Linked DNA regions of Homo sapiens: region 1 is linked to region 2. The links come from fine-mapping of genetic effects on gene expression. A gene starts in region 2. The other region holds a variant in brackets. All regions are shown on one strand. Distances are from middle to middle.

The links. PIP is the estimated chance that this variant, and not a neighbour inherited with it, causes the effect. A credible set is the group of variants that fine-mapping cannot tell apart.
Region 1: its variant is the best candidate, but not a certain one, in a credible set for the expression of LANCL1-AS1 in prefrontal cortex (BrainSeq, PIP 0.89).

Annotation. Positions count from the first base shown.
Region 1 is chr2:210,400,630-210,410,716 of GRCh38, reverse strand. All of the region lies in intron 1 of LANCL1-AS1 (LANCL1 antisense RNA 1), which reads right to left. Among named protein-coding and RNA genes, the nearest start is that of LANCL1, 71 kb to the left of the region's middle. The variant AACAG/G (reference allele first, on the strand shown) is at 6,233.
Region 2 is chr2:210,320,036-210,330,122 of GRCh38, reverse strand. It overlaps LANCL1-AS1 (LANCL1 antisense RNA 1), which reads right to left and starts at 5,411. Exons shown (of 5, transcript NR_110606.1): 1 at 5,289-5,411.

The DNA.
Region 1 (10,087 bases), 81 kb before region 2:
TAGGAGATCAACTCTGCCACATTCATTTATGCCAAAGCCTAATCCAGAGGAAGACCCTACCTCTCTTTAGTTCTCTGAAGGCTGAGAGAGGTGTGGAAGCTACAGAAGAAAAGTTCGAAGCTAGCATAGGTTGTTTTATGAGGTTTAAGGAAAGAAGCCATCTCTGTAACATAAAAGTACAAAGTGAAACAGCAAGTGCTGATGTAGAACCTGCAGCAGAAGATCTAGCTTAGATTACCGACAAAGGTGGCTACACTAAACAACAGATTTTCAATATAGACAGCCTTATATTAAAAGAAGATGTTATCTAGGACTTTCACAGGTAGAGAGGAGAAGCCAATGTCTGATTTCATAGCTTCAAAAGTCACTCTGACTCTCTTGTTAGGGGCTAATGCAACTGATGACTTGAAGCCTGTGCTCACTGACAATTCCAAAAATTCTAGGGCCTTGGAAAATTATGCTAATTATACCCTGCCTGTGCTCTGTGAATGGAACAACAAAGCTTGGATGACAGCACATCTGTTTACAGCACAGTTTACTGAATATTTTAAGCCCACTATTGAGATCTGCTGATCAGGAAAAAAAAAGATTTATTTTATAAGATTACTGCTCACTGACAATGTACTTGGTCACCCAAGTGCTCTGACGGAGAGGTACAGGAGATTAATGGTTTCATGCCTGCTAACACAACATTCTTTCTGCAGCCTGTGGATCAAGGAGTAATTTTGACTTTCAAGACTTATGACTTAAGAAATACATTTTGTAAGGCCATAGCTGCCATAGATTGTGATTTGTGTGATGATCTGGTCAAAGTAAACTGAAAACCTCAGAAAAGGAGCCAGCATTCTAGATGCCATTTAGGAACATTTATGATTCATGGGAGGGGTGAAAATATCAACACTAACAGGAGTTTAGAACTTAATGTAATCTCATGGATAACTGAGGCATTCAAGACTTCAGTGGAGGAGATTACTGCAAATGTGATAGAAACAGTAAGAGATCTAGAAAGAAATGGACCCTGAAAATATGACTAAATTGCTGCTATCTCATGATAGAACTTGGATGGATGAGCAGTTGCTTTCTATGAATGAGCAAGGAAAGTGGTTTCTTAAGATGAAAGCTCTCCTGATGAAGACGCTATGAACATCGTTGAAATGAACATCGTTGAAACGACAACAAAACAATTAGAATGTTAAATAAATTTAGTTGATGGAGCAGCAGCAGGATTTGAGAGGACTGACTCTGATTTTGAAAGAAGTTCTACTGTGAGTAAAATGCTATCACATGCAAACAGCATCACATGATGCAAAGAAATCTGTCATGAAAGGAAGAGTCAATTGATGTGGCAAACTTCATTGTTGTCTCATCTTAAGAAATTGCCACAGCCACCCAACCTTCAGCAACCACCACACTGATCAGCCAGCAGCCATCAAGATTGAGGTAAAACCCTCCACCAGCAAAAAACTCAGATAATTATTATGATTTTTTTCAGCAATACAGTATTTTTGAATTAAGATATGTACTTTTTGAAGACATAATGTTATTGCTCACTTAATATACTACAGTATAGTATAAACATAACTTTTATATGTACTGGGAAACCAAAAAACTTGTGTGACTCACTTTATTGCAATACTTCATTGCAGTGTTCAGTAACCAAACCTGCAATATCTTCAAGGTATGTTTGTATATAATAAGGGGTGTCTTAGTCTGTTTGGGCTACTGTAACAAAATATCTTAGACTGGGTAATTTATAAACAACAATTTTATTGCTCTTAGTTTTGGATGCTAGAAAGTCCTAGATCAAGATACCAGCAGATTCTGTGTCTGATGAGGGCTCTCTCTCTGCTTCAAAGATGGTGCCTTCTTGCTGCATCCTCACATGGCAGAAGAGGCAAATGAGCTCCCTCAGTTGGTCCTATAAAGGCACCAGTTCCAGTGATGAGAGCTATGCCCTCATGACCTAGTCACCTCCCAAAGGTTCTACCTCTTAATACAAACACATTGAGGATTAGATTTTAACATATGAATTTTAAAAGGACACAAAATTCAGACAATAGCAAGGGGTTAATATCTAAAGCATGTAATGAGCTCCTATAACTCAATAGCAAAAAATATATATAATTAAAATGGGCAAAGTACCTGAATAGACACTTCTCTAAAGATGACATACAAATGTTCAACAAGTATATGAAAAGATGCTCAACATCACGAATCATCAGAAAAATGCAAATCAAAATTACAATGAGGTAACATATCATACCTGCTAGGATGACCATTATTAAAAACAAAAAATACAAAAAAAAATACAGAAAATAACACGTGTCGGCAAGGATGTGGACAAATTGGAATGCTTTCACATGGTTAATGCAAATCTAAAATGGTGTAGCCATTATGGAAAACAGTATGGAGTTTCTTCTAAAAATGAAAAACAGAACCACCATGTAATTCAGGAATACCACTTCTGGATATTTTTCCAAGAGAACTGAAATCAGAATCTCAAAGAGATATCTGTCCTCTCATGTTTATTGGAACATTATTCACAGTAGCCAAGTGGTATAATCTATCCATGGATAAATGGATAAAGAAAATGTGGTATGTACATACAATAGAATATTATCAGCCATAAAAAAGGAGGAAATTCTGACATATGCTACAACCTGTATGAACTTTGAGGACATTACACTAGGTGAAATAAGCCCATCACAGAAGGATAAATACTTCATGATTCCACTTATATGAGATACCTAAAATAGTCAAATGCATAATAGCAGAAAGAAGAATGATGGTTTCTAGGGGCTGGGGGAAGGGGAAAAATGGGAAGTTCAATGAGTATAGAGTTTCAGTCATGCAAGATGAAAAAATTCTAGACATCTGCTATACCATATTGTACTTAACAATATTGTACCTTACATTTAAATATCACTTCACCACTTTGAGCTTCACAATACTTGCCATACATTGAGAATTTTGTGCCAGATTGGTCATTTTCAAGCTCAAGTCTGAAGCAGTTCTGAAAATGTTATATTAAATTTCATTATTAAAAGTGGATTTTTGAGACTGCTGGCAAGATGGCCAAATAGGAACAGCTCTGGTCTGCAGCTCCCAGAGAGACTGATGCACAAGGCAGGTGATTTCTGCATTTCCACTTGAGGTACCCGGTTCATCTCATTGGGACTGGTTAGACAGTGGGTGCAGCCTGTGGAGGACAAACCAAAGCAGATGGGGTGTCGCCTCACCCGGGAAGCACAAGGGGTCAGGGAATTCTCTCCCCTACCCAAGGGAAACCATGAAGGACTGTGCCTGAGGAATGGTGCACTCCAGCCCAGATAGTGCACTTTTCCCACAGTCTTCGCAACCCACACACCAGGAGATTCCCTCCAGTGCCTACACCACCAGGGCCCTGGGTTTCAAGCACAAAACTGGGCATCCATTTGGGCAGACACTGAGCTAGCTGCAGGAGTTATTTTTTTTTCCATACCCCAGTGGTGCCTGGAATGCCAGTGAGACAGAACCATTCACTCCCCTGGAAAGGGGGCTGAAGCCAGGGAGCCAAGTGGTATGGCTTGGTGGGTCCCACCCCAAGGAGGCCAGCAAGCTAAGATCCACAGGCTTGAAATTCTCGCTGCCAGCACAACAGTCAGGTTGACCTGGGACACTCGAGCTTGGTGGGAAGAGGGGCGTCTGCCATTGCTGAGGCTTGAGGAGGTGGTTTTACCCTCACAGTGTAAACAAAGCCATGGGGAAGTTCAAACTGGGCAGAGCCTACTGTAGCTCAGCAAGGCCACTGTGGCCAGACTGCCTCTCTAGATTACTCCTCTCTGGGCAGGGCATCTCTGAAAAAAGGGCAGCAGCCCCAGTCAGGGACTTATAAAAACCCTCATCTCCCTGGGACAGAGCACCTGGGGGAAGGGGTGGCTGTGGGTGCAGCTTCAGCAGACTTAAACATCCCTGCCTGAAGGCTATGAAGAGAGCAGTGGATCTCCCAGCACAGTGTTCGAGCTCTGCTAAGGGTCAGACTGCCTCCTCAGGTGGGTCCCTGACTGGGAGACACCTCCCAGTAGGGGCTGAGAGACATCTCATACAGGAGAGCCCTGGCTGGCATCTGGTGGATGCCCTTCTGGGACAAAGCTCCCAGAGGAAAGAACAGGCAGCAATCTTTGCTGTTCTGCAGCCTTCACTGGTGATACCTAGAAAAACAGGGTCTGGAGTGGACCTCCAGCAAACTCCAACAGACCTGAAGCAGACGGGCCTGTTAGAAGGAAAACTAACAAACAGAAAGGAATAGCACATCCACTCAGAGGCCCCATACGAAGGTCACCAATATCAAAGACCAAAGGTAGATAAATCCAAAAAGATGGGGAGAAACCAGTGCAAAAAGGCTGAAAATTCCAAAAACCAGAAAGCCTCTTCTCCTCCAAAGGATCACAACTCCTCACCAGCAAGGGAAAAAAAACTGGATGGAAAATGAGTTTGATGAATTGACAGAAGCAGGTTTTGGAAGGCGGGTAGTAACAAACCCCTTTGAGCTAAAGGAACATGTTCTAACCCAACGCAAGGAAGCTAAGAACCTCAAAAAAAAAGTTAGATGAATTGCAAACTAGAATAACCAGTTTAAAGAATGTAAATGACCTGATGGAGCTGAAAAACACAGCACGAGAACTTTGTAAAGCATACACAAGTATCAATAGCCAAATCAATCAAGAGGAAGAAAGGATATCAGAGATTGAAGATGAACTTAATGATATAAAGTGAGAAGATTAGAAAAAAAAAAAGAATGAAAAGGAACAAACAAACCCTTCAAGAAATATCAGACTATGTGAAAAGACAAAATCCACATTTGATTGGTGTACCTGACAGTGATGGGGATAATGAAACCAAGTTGGAAAACACTCTTCAGGATATTATCCAGGAGAACTTCCCCAACCTAGCAAGATGGGCCAACATTCAAATTTTAAAAATACAGAGAACACCACAAAGATACTACTCGAGAAGAGCAATCCCAAGACACATAATTGTCAGATCCACCAAGGTTGAAATGAAGGAAAAAATGTTAAGGGCAGCCAGAGAGAAAGGTCAGGTTACCCACAAAGGGAAGCCCATCAGACTAACATCAGGTCTCTCGGCTGAAACCCTACAAGCCAGAAGGGAGTGGGGGCCAATATTCAACATTCTTAAAAGAATTTTCAACACAGAATTTCATATCCAGCCAAACTAGGCTTCATAAGCAAAGGAGAAATAAAATCCTTTACAGACAAGCAAATGCTGAGAGATTTTGTCACCACCAGGCCTGCATTACAAGAGCTCCTGAAGGAAGCACTAAATATGGAAAGGAACAACCAGTAACGGCTACTGCAAAAACATGCCAAATTGTAAAGACCATCAATGCTATGAAGAAACAGCATCAGAAACGGAAAAAATAACCAGCTACCATCATAATGATAGGATCAAATTCACACATAACAATATTAACTTTAATTGTAAATGGGCTAAATGCCCCAATTAGAAGACACAGACTGGCAAATTGGAAAAAGAGTCAAGACCCATCGGTGTGCTGTATTCAGGAGACATATCTCATGTGCAAAGACACACATAGGTTCAAAATAAAGGGATGGAGGAATATTTACCAAGCAAATGGAAACCAAAAAAAAGCAAAAAGCAGGGGTTGTAATCCTAGTCTCTGAAAAAACAGATTTTAAACCAACAAAGATCAAAAGAGACAAAGAACGGCATTACATAATGGTAAAGGGATCAATGCAACAAGAAGAGCTAATATATATATATATATATATATATATATATATATATATATATATATAACAAGAAATAAATATAGTTATATATGTATAGTTATTTCTTGTTAACTATATATAGTTATTTCTTGTTTATATATATATATATATTAGCTCTTCTTGTTGCATATATATATATATATATATATATTCTTAGAGACCTGCAAAGAGACTTAGACTCCCACACAATAATAGTGAGAGACTTTAACACCCCACTGTCAACATTAGACAGATCAACGAGACAGAAAATTAACATGAATATTTAGGACTTGAACTGAGCTCTGGACCAAGCAGATCTAATAGACATCTACAGAACTCTCCACCCCAAATCAACAGCCTATACATTCTTCTCAGCGCCTCATTGCACTTATTCTAAACTTGACCACATAGATTGAAGTAAAACACTCCTCAGCAAATGCAATCAAATGGATATCATAACA[AACAG/G]TCTCTCAGACCACAGTGCAATCAAATTAGAACTCAGGATTAAGAAATTCACTCAAAACCACACAACTACAAGGAAACTGAACAATCTGCTCCTAAGTGACTACTGGGTAAATAACAAAATTAAGACAGAAATAAAGATGTTCTTTGAAACCAAAAAGAACAAAGATACAATGTACTAGAATCTCTGGGACATATTTAAAGCAGTGTGTAGAGGGAAATTTATAGCACTAAATGCCCACAAAAGAAAGCAGGAAATATCTAAAATTGACACACTAACATCACAATTAAAACAACTAGAGAAGCAAGAACAAACAAATTCAAAAGCCAGCAGAAGACAAGAAATAACTAAGATCAGAGCAGAACTGAAGGAGATAGAGACACAAAAACCCTACAAAAAAAATCAATGAATCCGGGAGCTGGTTTTTTGAAAAGATCAACAAAATAGATAGACCACTAGCAAGACTAATAAGAAAAGAGAGAAGAATCAAATAGACACACTGAAAAATGAAAAAGGGGATATCACCATTGATCACACAGAAATATAAACTACCATCAGAGAATACTATAAACACCTCTATGCAAATAAACTAAAAAATCTAGAAGAAATGGAAAATTCCTGAACACATACACCCTCCTAAGTCTAAACCAGGAAGAAGTCGAATCCCTGAATAAACCAATAACAAGTTCTGAAACTGAAGCAGTAATTAACACCCTACCAACCAAAAAAAGTCCAGGACCTGACGGATTCACAGCCGACTTCTACCAGAGGTACAAAGAGGAGCTGGTACTATTCCTTCTGAAACTATTCCAAACAATAGAAAAAGAGGGACTCTTCCCTAACTCATTTTATGAGGCCAGCATCATCCTCATACCAAAACCTGGCAGAGACACAACAAAAAAAGAAAATGTCAGGCCAATATCCCTGAGGAACATCGATGAAAAAATTCTCAATAAAATACTGGCAAACCAAATCCAGCAGCACATCAAAAAGCTTATCCACCATGATTACGTTGGCTTCATATCTGGGATGCAAGGCTGGTTCAATACACACAAATCAATAAATGTAATCCATCACATACAGAGAACCAATGACAAAAACCACATGATTATCTCAATAGATGCAGAAAAGGCCTTCGACAAAATTCAATGCTCCTTCATGCTAATAAACAGAGTATTCGAATAGGAAGAGAGGAAGTCAAATTGTCTCTGTTTGCAGATGACATGATTTTATATTTAGAAAACCCCACCATCTCAGCCCAACATCTCCTTAAGCTGATAAGCAAATTCAGCAAAGTCTCAGGACACAAAATCAATGTGCAAAAATCACAAGCACCCTTATGCATCAATAACAGACGAACAGAGAGCCAAATTATGAGTGAACTCCCATTCACAATTGTTACAAAGAGAATAAAATACCTAGGAATACAACTTACAAGGGATGTGAAGGACCTCTTCAAGGAGAACTACAAATCACTGCTCAAGGAAATAAGAGAGGACACAAACAAATGGAAAAACATCCCATGCTCAAGGATAGGAAGAATCAATATCATGAAAATGGCCATACTGCCCAAAGTAATTTCTAGAGTCAATGCTATCCCCATCAAGCTACCATTGACTTTCTTCACAGAATTAGAAAAAACTACTTTAAACTTCATATGGAAATGAAAAAGAGCCCACATAGCCAAGACAATCCTAAGCAAAAAGAACAAAGCTGGAGGTTTCATGATACCTGACTTCAAACAATACTACAAGGCTACAGTAACCAAAACACCATGATACTGGTACCAAAAGAGATATATAGACTACTAGAACAGAACAGAGGCCTCAGAAATAACACCATACATCTACAACCATCTGATCTTTGACAAACCTGACAAAAACAAGCAATGGGGAAAGGACTTCCTATTTAATAAATGGTGTTGGGATAACTGGCCAGCCATATGCAGAAAACTGAAACTGGACCCCTTCCATACACCTTATAGAAAAATTAACTCAAGATAGATTAAAGACTTAAATGTAAGACCTAAAATCATACAAATCCTAAAAGAAAACCTAGGCAATACCATTCAGGACATAGGCATGGGCAAAGACTTCATGTCTAAAACACCAAAATCAATGGCAACAAAAGCCAAAATTGACAAATGGGATCTAATTAAAGTAAAGAGCTTCTGCACAGCAGAAGAAACTATCATCAGAGTGAACAGGCAACCTACAGACTGGGAGAAATTTTTTGCAATCTATCTATCTGACAAAAGGGCTAATACCCAGAATCTACAAGGAACTTCAACAAATTCACAAGAGAAAAACAACCCCATCAAAAAGTGGGTGAAGGCTATGAAGAGACACTTTTCAGAAGAAGACATTTATGTAGTCAAGAAAAAAACATATGGAAAAAAGCTCATCATCACTGGTCATTAGAAAAATGCAAATCAAAACCTCAGTGAGATACCATCTCACACCAATTAGAAGCTATTTATAAACTAGTGTAAAACACAGATTCCAATGTATCGTGTATCAAATTGCAATCATTAAAAACTCAGGAAACAACAGATGCTGGAGAGGATGTGGAGAAATAGAAACGCTTTTACACTGTTGGTGGGAGTGTAAATTAGTTCAACCATTGTGGAAGACAGTGTGGCGATTCCTCAAGGATCTGGAACAAGAAATACCGTTTGACCCAGCAATCCCATTACTGGGTATATACCCAAAGGATTATAAATCATTCTACTATAGACACATGCACACGTATGTTTATTGCAGTACTATTCACAATAGCAAAGACTTGGAACTAACTCAAATGTCTATCAATGATGGACTGGATAAGGAAAATGTGGCACATACAAACCATGGAATACTATGCAGCCAATGGAAAGGATGAGTTCACATCCTTTGCAGGGACATGGATGAAGCTGGAAACTATCATTCTCAGCAAACTAACACAAGAACAGAAAACCAAACAGCACATGTTCTCACTCATAATTGGGAGCTGAACAATGAGAACATATGGACACAGAGAGGGGAGCATCACCGGGGACACAGAGAGGGGAACAATGAGAACATATGGACACCGGGGCCTGTCAAGAGGTGAGGGTCTAGGGGAGGGATAGCATTAGGAGAAATACCTAATGTAGGTGACAGGTTGATAGGTGCAGAAAATCACTAAGACACGTGTATACCTATGTAAAAAAACTGCACGTTCTGCTCATGTACCCCAGAACTTAAAGTATAATAAAAAATAAATAAATAAAAGTGGATTTTAAGCTATTTATAAACCAGGGTAAAACACAGATTCCAATGTATCATGTATCAAATACTAGCATCTTAGGTAACTTCAATGCTTTAACTTGAGTTAAAATAAGATTTTAAAATAAGAAAATAATATTACTTTGAATAACAGGAGTTGCTTTCACATTTTATTGAGGCATACTAGAAGACCTTCTGTAGGTTTGGCTTTGATGGATTTTCTTCTGTTTCCTTAAAAAAGCCAAATTCATCATCTTTTCTATTTCCCACTCCTCTATGTTGTCCCTTCATCTGAACTTCCTAAGACAATTAATAGTATTACCAAATACCTGGGTGTTCAAGGCAAAAAAAGTTGCATATTATCTCAGACCATTGGTTTTCAAAATGCAGTGTGGAACAGCAACATAAATTTTTATTACCGAGAACTTGACAGAAATGCACATTCTAGGGTCCAATCAAGACCTGCTAAGTCAAAAACTCTGGAGGCAGGGAATAGCAATATGCCTTAACAAATCCTCCAAGTGATTGTGATGTTGGTCAAGTTTGAAAACCACTGTTTCAATATCAATCATCCCTTTATTCCAATTCGATCTATAGTCAGTCAATCA
Region 2 (10,087 bases):
TTAAAAAAATACCTGCACTCATATTTATCACAGTAATATTCACAATAGCAAAGACATGAAATCAATGTAGGGGCCCATCAGTGGTGGATTGGATAAAGAAAATGTACATACACACCATGGAATATACTACATAGTTATAAAAAAGAATGAAATTTCCTTTGCGGCAACATGAAGGCAACTGGAGGCCATTATCCTTAGCAAATTAATGCAGAAACAAAAAAACAAATATCATGTTCTCACTTATAAGTGGGAACTGAACATTGGATACACACAGATATAAAGATAGAAATAATACAATGAGGACTCCAAAGGGAAGTTGGGGTGATGGAAGGTTGAAAAACTCTCTATTGGGTACTATATTTACTATTCGGGTAACAAGATCAATAGAAACACAAACCTCATCATTATGCCATGTAATAAACCTGCACATTTACCCCATGGATCTAAAATTTTTAAAAATGGTAAGAGAAACTTTGGAAATTGTGCAAATACATGGAAAGCAAACAATAACAATATGCTCCTGAATGACCATTATTGGGTCAAAAAAGAAATGGAGGAAATAAAAAATAAAATGAATGAAATCAAAATACAAAATACCAAAACCTATGAGATACAGCAAAAGCAGTGCTATGAGGAAAGCTTGGAGCCATAAATACCTACATCAAAAAATAGTAAGATTTAAAATAAACAATCTAATGATGCACCTCAGGCAACTAGAAAAACAAGACCAAACCAAACCAAAATTAGAAGAAACAAAAATAAAGATCAGAGAAGAAAGAAATAAGATACAGAAAAAAACAAAGGATAAATGGAACAAAAAGTTGTTTTTTTCAAACAAATAAAAAATTAACTACTTGCTATACTAACCAAGGAAAAAAGTGAAAAGACAAACAAAGAAAACAGAAATGAGAAAGATATTACACCTGGTACCACAGAAATAAAATAGGTCAGAGACTATTTGAACAACTATAGATAAACAAACTGGAAAACCTAAAAGAAATGGATAAATTCCTAGACACATACAGTCTACCAAGACTGAATAAAAAAAATTAGAAAACCCAAATAGACCAACAACAAGTAATGAGATCAAAGCAGTAAAAAAAATTTCTCTAACAAAGAAAAGTCCAGGACCAGATGGCTTCACTGCTGAATTCTACCGAATTCAAAGAAAAACTAACACCAATTCTCCTCAAACTATTTCAAACATTGGAGAGGAAACAATTCTTTCTAATTCATTCTACAAGGCCAGAATTACCCTCAGGCTAAAATCAGATAAGAATGTAAAACAACCACTAAAAAAAACTGTAGGCTAATAGCCCTGATGAACATAGATGCACAATGCAAAAATCCTCAACAAAATACTAGCAAGGCAAATCCAACAGCACATCAAAAAAATAATACACCATGATCCCAGGTATTTATCCCAGTGATTCATGGGTTGCTCAACATATGCAAATCAATCAGTGTGACACCTCACATCAACAGAATGAAGAATAAAAACCATACAATTATTTCAATGAATGCAGAGAAAGTATTTGATAAATTTCAACATCCCTTCATGATAAAAACCTCAACAAAATAGGCATAGAAAAGATGTACCTCAACATAATGGAAGGCACATATGACAAACCCACAGCTAAGATCATACTAAATGAAGAAAAGGTGAAAGCCTTCCCTCTAAGAACTATAATAAAACAAGAATGCCCACTTTCACCACTCCTATTCAACATAGTACTAGAAATCCTCGTCAGAACAATCAGGCAAGAGAAAGAAATAAAAGGCACCCAAATTGGAAACGAGGAAGTGAAATTCTCTCTTTACCAATAATATAATTTTATGTCTAGGAAAACCTAAAGACTTCACCAAAAACGTTTTAGACCTCATAAATTCAATAAAGTTTCAGGATACAAAATCAATTTCAAAAATCAGTAGCATTTGTATACACAATAATGAAGTAGCTGAGAAAGAAATTAAGAATGCAATACCACTTATAATAGCTACAAGAAGATAATGAAATACCTAGGAATAAATTTAACTAAGATAAAAGACCTGTACAAGGAAAACTATAAAGTACTGGTGAAATAAATTGAAGAGAACACAAAAAAATGGAAATACATTTCATGCTCATGGATCAGAAGAATTAATATTGTTAAAATGGCCATGCTGCCCAAAGCAATCAACAGTTTCAATGGAATCCCTATCAAAATACCAATGTCATTTTTCACAGAATTAGAAAAAACAATCCTAAAATTTTCATGGGGCCAAGTAAGAGCCCAAAAACCAAAGCAACATGAACAAAAAGAACAAAGCTAGGGGCATCACCTTACCTGATTTTAATATATATTACAAGACTTTAACTAAAACAGCATAGTATTAGTATAAAAACAGTTACATAGACTAATGGAATAGAATGGAGAATCCAGGCCAGGTGCGATGGCTCATGCCTGTAATCCCAGAACTTTGGGAACCCGAGGCAGGCAGATCACTTAAGGCCAGGAGTTTGAGCTCAGTCTGGCCAACGTGGCAAAAACCCGTCTCTACTAAAAATACAAAAAATTAGCCAGGCATGGTGGTATGCACCTGTAATCCCAGCTACTCAGGAGGGAGAGGCAGGAGAATCGCTTAAACCTATGAGACGAAGGTTGCAGTGAGCTGAGATTTGCCTCTGTACTCCAGCCTGGGCAACAGAGCAAGACTCTCTCTCAGGAAAGAAAAAAAAAAATAGAGAATCCAGAAATAAATCCATGTATTTACAGCCTACTGATTTTTGACAAATGTGCCAAGAACATCCATTGGGGAAATGACAGTATCTTCAATTAATGGTGATGGGAAATTTGGATATCTACATGCAGAAGAATATAGGTATCTTCTATCTAAGCCCCTATCTTCACTACATCACATATTAATTCAAGGTACATTATAGACTTAAACACTTAAAACTATAAAACTACTAGAAGAAAACAGAGGGAAAACTCTTCAGTACATTGGTCCGGGCAAAGATCTTACACCTAAGACCTCAAAATCACAGGCAACAAAAACTAAAATAGACAAATGGTAGCATATTAAACCAAAAAGCTTCTGCATATCAAAAGAAACAACCAAGAGAGTGAAAAGACAACCTGTAAAATGGGAGAAAATATTTGTAAGCTATTCATCCAACAAGGCATTAATATCCAGAATATCAAGGAACTCAAACAATTCAACAACCAAAAAAAACCCCACAAATAATCATATTAAAAAGTGGGCAAAGGATATGAACAGATATTTCTGAAAGTAAGGCACACAAATGGCCATATACAAATGGTATATGAAAAAATACCCAACATCACTATGCATCAGAGAAATGCAAATGGAAACCACAATGAGATATCATCTTACTCCAGTTAGAATGGCTGTCATTAAAAAGATGAAAAATATCAGATTCTGGTGAGAATGCAGAGAAAAGGAAACTCTTAAACACTGTTGATGGGAAGGTAAATTAGTACAACCACTATGAAAAATAGTATGACGATTTCTTTAAAAACCAAAAAATAGAACTACCATACAATCCAGCAATCCTACTTCTGAGTATTTATCCAAAGGAAAAAGAAATCAGTACATGAATATGTGCACTTGCATGTTTATCTGAGCCCTTGTCACAATGGCAATAGGACAATAGCACTATCCAAACATCCATTTCTCTGTTGATAGACACTTAGGTAGAATCAATTCAGTAAACAATATAACCATGAGCACTGTCTCATGGAATTTATAGTCTAAGTGAGGACAATAATCAATAAATGATTCAATTATTATAAGCTATGAGTCCACCAAATGAAGTATTGCAATATGGGATGAGAGGAGTGGAACCTACTTTAGATAGGGTGATAAGTAAGACCCTTCTGAAGAGAGGACTTACTTCTAAGGTAAGACTTGAAAGGGAATAAAAACATTCATTCAAAGAAAGATTAGAAGAACAATTCAGGAAGAAAGAACAGCATATCATACTAAAGAATGAACTGAAGAAGGCCAGAATGTCTGTAGTCCAATATGTGAGGGGGAGAGTGGCAGGAGATGTTGCGGGAGCTCATCCATTTTTCATCAATATTCTAGGAAACATAAATCACTGGGAGAGGACACACTATGAAAATAACTCTACTCACACACCAGTCTGCTTTAGATAGGCCCTCTCCTTTACACCTAAATAAATATTTACAATTTGAGGGAAGAAATGGAATCAGCCTAAGCATAAGACATGAGGACTCAGAACTTGTTGGTTCCTCATCCTCCAAGCTCCAACCACAAGTTGTTTCTCCCTTTGCCAAGATATCTGGAATTTCCAGACTTGCAATATTAATGCACAGCCCTGTACATGGTCTTATATACCTATGATGACAGCCCAGTCATGAAGCTAGAGAAATGCAAAATAAGAAATTTTGCTAAAATTCTTTAGCAAAAGCTAAAGAATATGAAGACTAAATCTGAGGGAAACCCTAAGGTATATTGGATTTAACCATTATTGAAGACATAAAAAGGTTTAGTCAGAAAGTTTCTGGTGCTTCTCAAGGAATTAGTGACAGCTTTAGAGTGTGAAGACCACATTTCTTGAGTGTTCAGACTTAAAATTCTGTCTTTGTGTAAGACCTTTCAGACTCTGTTTGCTGAAGAAAGAGACTGAAATGTAAGACCTAGAAGTCATATTGTAACATTGCAGGCTAACCAGGTGTTGAGAGACCCCTTGCTATTTATTTAGCCATGTTGTAATGCCCTTTCCAATCCCAAATTCATTCTTGCTTCTAGAAGATTATTGAAGTGGGACTTGCGAGACATATAGTCTCTTTCAACAAACAGCAATATAATTCTTCCTTTACACATTCCAGGGAAGAAAAAAAAAATATCCTTTCCAGCTGGTACACAGGCTGTGATGCACTGGAACTACCTGAATCCTAACCGCCAAAAGGGCACCAGGGAGGATTTTAATATATGCAGTACGAGTGTGTCAAAAACAGCATCTTACGAGAGATTTAATCTGTTCATTTGAAAGAGTGCGGTACAAATGGTCCCGTGGGGCTCACCTCCAGGGCCGCCAACGATTTCACACTTGATGAGAATCAATATGTGTGCTTGGTCTTGACTACAAATATTTCATTAGAAGCTGAGAAAAGGGCCCCTGCTACCCCATTTTGCTTTCTTCCCGGCTTTACTGGTCCCAATTTCTTCCACGTCAGAAATGCCCATCACATTTCATATAAAAGAATGTATCCAGCAAATTAAAAAGCTAGAGACCTCAAGTTGAAATTAATACTTACAGGGTAACAGGTGTCTCACATTTTAAAAATCCTGGCACTGGTTTACAGCAGCATAAGAGTGCCCTTTGTGCTGTTTCCTCCTCTAGCAGAACTGCTCCAAACACAAGGACTGAGGCCGCCAGTCTCTCAAGAATGCCTAACGTGCCATAGGGTGGCCTCCTGGAGACATGAATACTCTCTTGGGCCCGAATTAGAAAACCTTGACCAGGACAAGTAGAAGCAAATGCACTGTCAGCCATGGGCTATTCTTATCCCTGCAGTTGTTGCCCATCTTCAAAATGGAGACAGCGAGACTCATGCTGTCTGAAGACCCTAAGACAGGCTTGACACAGGGTCCCTCTGTTTTTTTTATCCCACCCAATGTCATTCATTTTACTTTGGAAGGCAGTATTATTTCTTCTCCCTATCAAACTTTGTATTAAAGCATAACATACATTTGGAAAAATGCAGAAATCTTAAGTGTACAACTTGATGAATTATCACAAAGTGAACAAATTCATGTAACCACCAGCTCCTTCAACAAATTCATGTAAACACCAGCTCCTTCACTACCTGACCTTCCTCTCCACTACCCAACACTCCTCTCTACTACTATCCTGTCTTCGAATACCATCAGGTAGTTTCTCTTGGTCTTGAACTTTATATAAATGGAACCATAACACTGTGTGACACTGATCTATCTTATTACATGTACCTGTAGTTTGTTCATTCTTATTGCTGTGTAGTGTTCCATCACAAGGATATATGATATTCTATCCATTTTATTGCTAATGGGCATTTGGGTTGTTTCCAGTTTTGTGCAATTATGAATATCATTGCTAAAAATGTTTATGTACATTTTTTTTGAGACAGAGTCTTGCTCTTGTTGCCCAGGCTGGAGTGCAATGGTGTGATCTCAGCTCACTGTGACTTCTGCCTCCCGGGTTCAAGCAATTCTCCTGCCTCAGCCTCCCAAGTAGCTGGGATTATAGGTGCCCACCACCACACCTCGCTAAATTTTTGTATTTTTAATAGAGACAGGGTTTTGCCATGTTGGTCAGGCTGACCTCGAACTCCTGACCTCAGGTGATCCACCCACCTCAGCCTCCCAAAGTGCTGGGATTACAGGCGTGAGCCACCGTGCCCAACCTATGTACATCTTTATGCATATACATACACATTTGTGGGGGACACATGACTATGAGTGAAATTGTTGGCTTTTAAGATATGCACATGTTTAGTATTTATTCTTGGCCTTTTTGTCCTGGAGGGTGCTTTCCACTTAATTTCCCAGAAAAATATCAGCTGCCAAAATCTCTTTTGCCAGTTTGTTCTTGGAACTATGCTAAATATTGTAGGATGATGGTGAGTTAATGGGCAGTCATTGCCCTTGGACATTTATGCTCTCAATTCCTTCTCAGGAGGCAACCAAGAAGGATTTCTGATCAATAGTCTGACCATTCGGTTACTGTTTTCTTACTGCCACAGCCCCTTTTCTTGAGGTAGTCTCTGCATCGTGTGCCCTTTCTTGCCATGGTCTGGGATTTTCTGTCCCTTTCATACTCCCTCTCTCTTGCCAGAATCACATACTACAGCATCAGAATTACCCAGTGAAGCAATCTCTGAGCAATTTTAATCACTATAAATGTCCTTCCTTGAGAAATCCTACACCCCCACCTCCAGGGGAAGCAGCATGTTAACCATGTAAAGAATCACGCTGACTCAATTTCTACATGACTTACTATCTGCTTCATAAAACAAGATTCCGGAGCACTGGTTCCAGCTTGGCCCTGGATATATCATGACCTCTAACAAGGTAACTCTGAGAGCAAAAGAAGAAAAATACCAGTCTTCACTTACACAAGTATTGGATTTATTAACTGTTAAAGAAACAATACTAGTTAAAAACTTAGTGACGAAAGGAGTGTAAACATTTTAAAAAATCATCTTTATTATCCAGTCCCAGTCCTTTATCAAGTTTGCACTTAAACACCCATTTATTCTTAAAAGGAAACAGTTTACATTTTAAAATATTTTTGGAGTACCTCATAATCCCCAGTTAGAAAGTTATTTATTTTTAACCGAAAATTATTTCACTCATCCCTGTTAGTTTCATATAAAGAACAGCTGACGACTATTCTCTTAATAGCAACATTTTATTAATTAAAATTGCTTTTAAGCCACCTTTTTCTTCCTTCAACTAAGTACTGCCAAAGCCATTAACTTTTCAGAATGGGTTCTAATAGTCAATTTTGTTCATCCTCATTCTCTCTTCTAACTATTCAAATATTCAAATTCTTTCTCTTGCTCAGATTTTGGGGCTCCAAACTGTCTTGAATCATTTAAGTATATCTGCCAACACCAAAACCCGTAACATTCTTTCATTCATTTATTCATCCATTCCATTAAAAAAATGTTTTCAGCTTACTGTGAGTTGGGAGCTGGAGAGTCATTGGAGAACAAGAAAGATGAGTCCCTGATCTGATAAAGCTCACTTCCTAAATGTATTAGAAAACAAATAAAAATTCAAAAATTATAAAGTCCATGAGAATAATAAAAACAGATGCTAGACTAAGTAATAACCAGAGGAGGGGTTACTTAATATAGCATGATTCCATTAGGTCTTTCAGAGAAAGTAACATCTGGATTAAAATCGAAGTGATCTTAGGTAGTAGCCATGAAAGAATATATAGAAAAAGTGTTCTGAGAAAATAGTACAGCAATGTCAGGCCCTTAGGAGAGAAGGTCAGAATGGCCAGAATATAACCAAAAAGGTGGAGAGAACTCTGAGAGGAGTTCAGGGAGACAGGTGGAGACTAGATCAAATCCAGCCTTGTTGGCCATTGTTAGGAGTTCATCTTGTAAGTTCCAAATGTGATGATTCCATTAATGAATAATGACATACATAAACTTTTCTCAGATAAGTGCTAGGCTTATGATCAGTTATTGTGCATTCTTCCAATTTGTGATTTACAGTATACCCAAGATCTCCCTGCCTTTGGCATTGCTAACATTCCAGTAATTCTTTTGCTTCTTTGAGGCCCTCTTCTTCTGAAACATAACCTTCAGTTGGATCTTTTTTTTAAAATTTATTTTTGAGACAGAGTCTCACCCTGTCACCCAGGATGGAGTACAATGGTGCAATCTCAGCTCACTGCAACCTCTGCTTCCTGGGTTCAAATGATTCTCCTGCCTCAGCCTCCAAAGTAGCTGGGATTACAGGCACCTGCCACCACGCCCAACTAATTTTTCATATTTTAGTAGAAACAGGGTTTCACCATGTTAGCCAGGCTGGTCTCAAACTCCTGACCTCATGATCCACCTGCCTTGGCCTCCTAAAGTGCTGGGATTACAGGCATAAGCCACTGTGCCTGGCTGGATCATTTTTTTTTAACAAGGCAAAATTTAATTCTACTACAACTGAATAGCTGAGGTGTGATCCTTGTTGTTTTTCACATGTCATTATCCTTCCCTTAGTCATTAGGAAGCAGTAGGGTTTAGATTTCATTAAAACCGGGTTCTACTTCTGTTTTTGACACTTTTTTTTGTTTTATGGGTGTTTTTGTTTGTTTTTTGAGACAGGGTCTCACTCTGTTGCCCAGGCTAGACTGCAGTGGAACAATCGTGACTCACTGCAGCCTCCAACTCCTAAGCTCAAGCGATCCTCTTGCCTCAGCCTCCCTTCAAGTAGCTGGGACTATGGGTGTGCACACCACGGCTGGCTTGTTTTTAACACTTTTACTGTGGGTAACTAGCATGTAACTTTACCTCTGAGTCTTTTTATCCATAAAGTGAAATAATACCTACCTCAGAATTGTTGTGGGGATTAAAGGACATGGAATACGTTAACCCTCAACAGATGGCCACTAATAATATACTTTTCAAAAAGCAAAAACCATAGAACTTTGCAGTAAAAATGAGATGCTGGGATCTTACCCTATCCATTCCTCTAATTTTGTATTTAAGCCTCTCTGAAGCTAAAATAATTGTCAGTAGTCACACAGCTAGTAGCTAGACGTAAACCAGATCTCACTAAATCAATATACTAATAGAAAAATAATTCAACCACCTACTATTTGCTTTAGCTTTGAGGTTGGGCTTTATGAACTCCATAATTATTCTCTGAATCAATCACAAATGCAGCCTGATTCTTGAGGCAAGTTGAAATTGGAAAAATGTGTGGTCTAATAAATGCTACTTATTAGGGCTTGGGAGATTCAGAACCATGAACTCTACTTTTTACTCAATTTGTTAAGGGGGAAAAAGCCAATAAGAAGACATAGTTTCTATATAGATCTCATCCACCAAATGTGGATTGTGACTTACAGACAGCTCAGGGGAGGAAATAAACCTTAGCTGACCGAAGAACTTTGGTAAGCAAATTATTGGAGATAGTGGATGTGTCAACTTAGGGCCCAAATCTAGAGGAGGAACTGTGGTGTCGTTAAATAATGTGAAAGCCACTTACTTCAACTGCTTACTATTGGAAAGTTTTCAAGTAGATATCATACACACATGAACTGATTTATGTAAATGTAAGGGGAAAAAATCCTGAGTCTTAATTGAAGGTTTGACAAGTTGGCTTTTACATATGGTTGTGCTCATATTTAATCTTTATTGTTGGCTTTTTAACTTTTTTATTTTATTATTTATTTATTGTATAAGCAAAGTGTAGTCACAGAAGAAAAATAAAAATATAGATTAGCAAATAAAATTAACTCATAATTCTACCACTCAGAAATAACTATTAACACAAGTATGCACACACAGACACACACATGTTAATTCACACACTTAAATTCTTATTTTGCTCTATGACA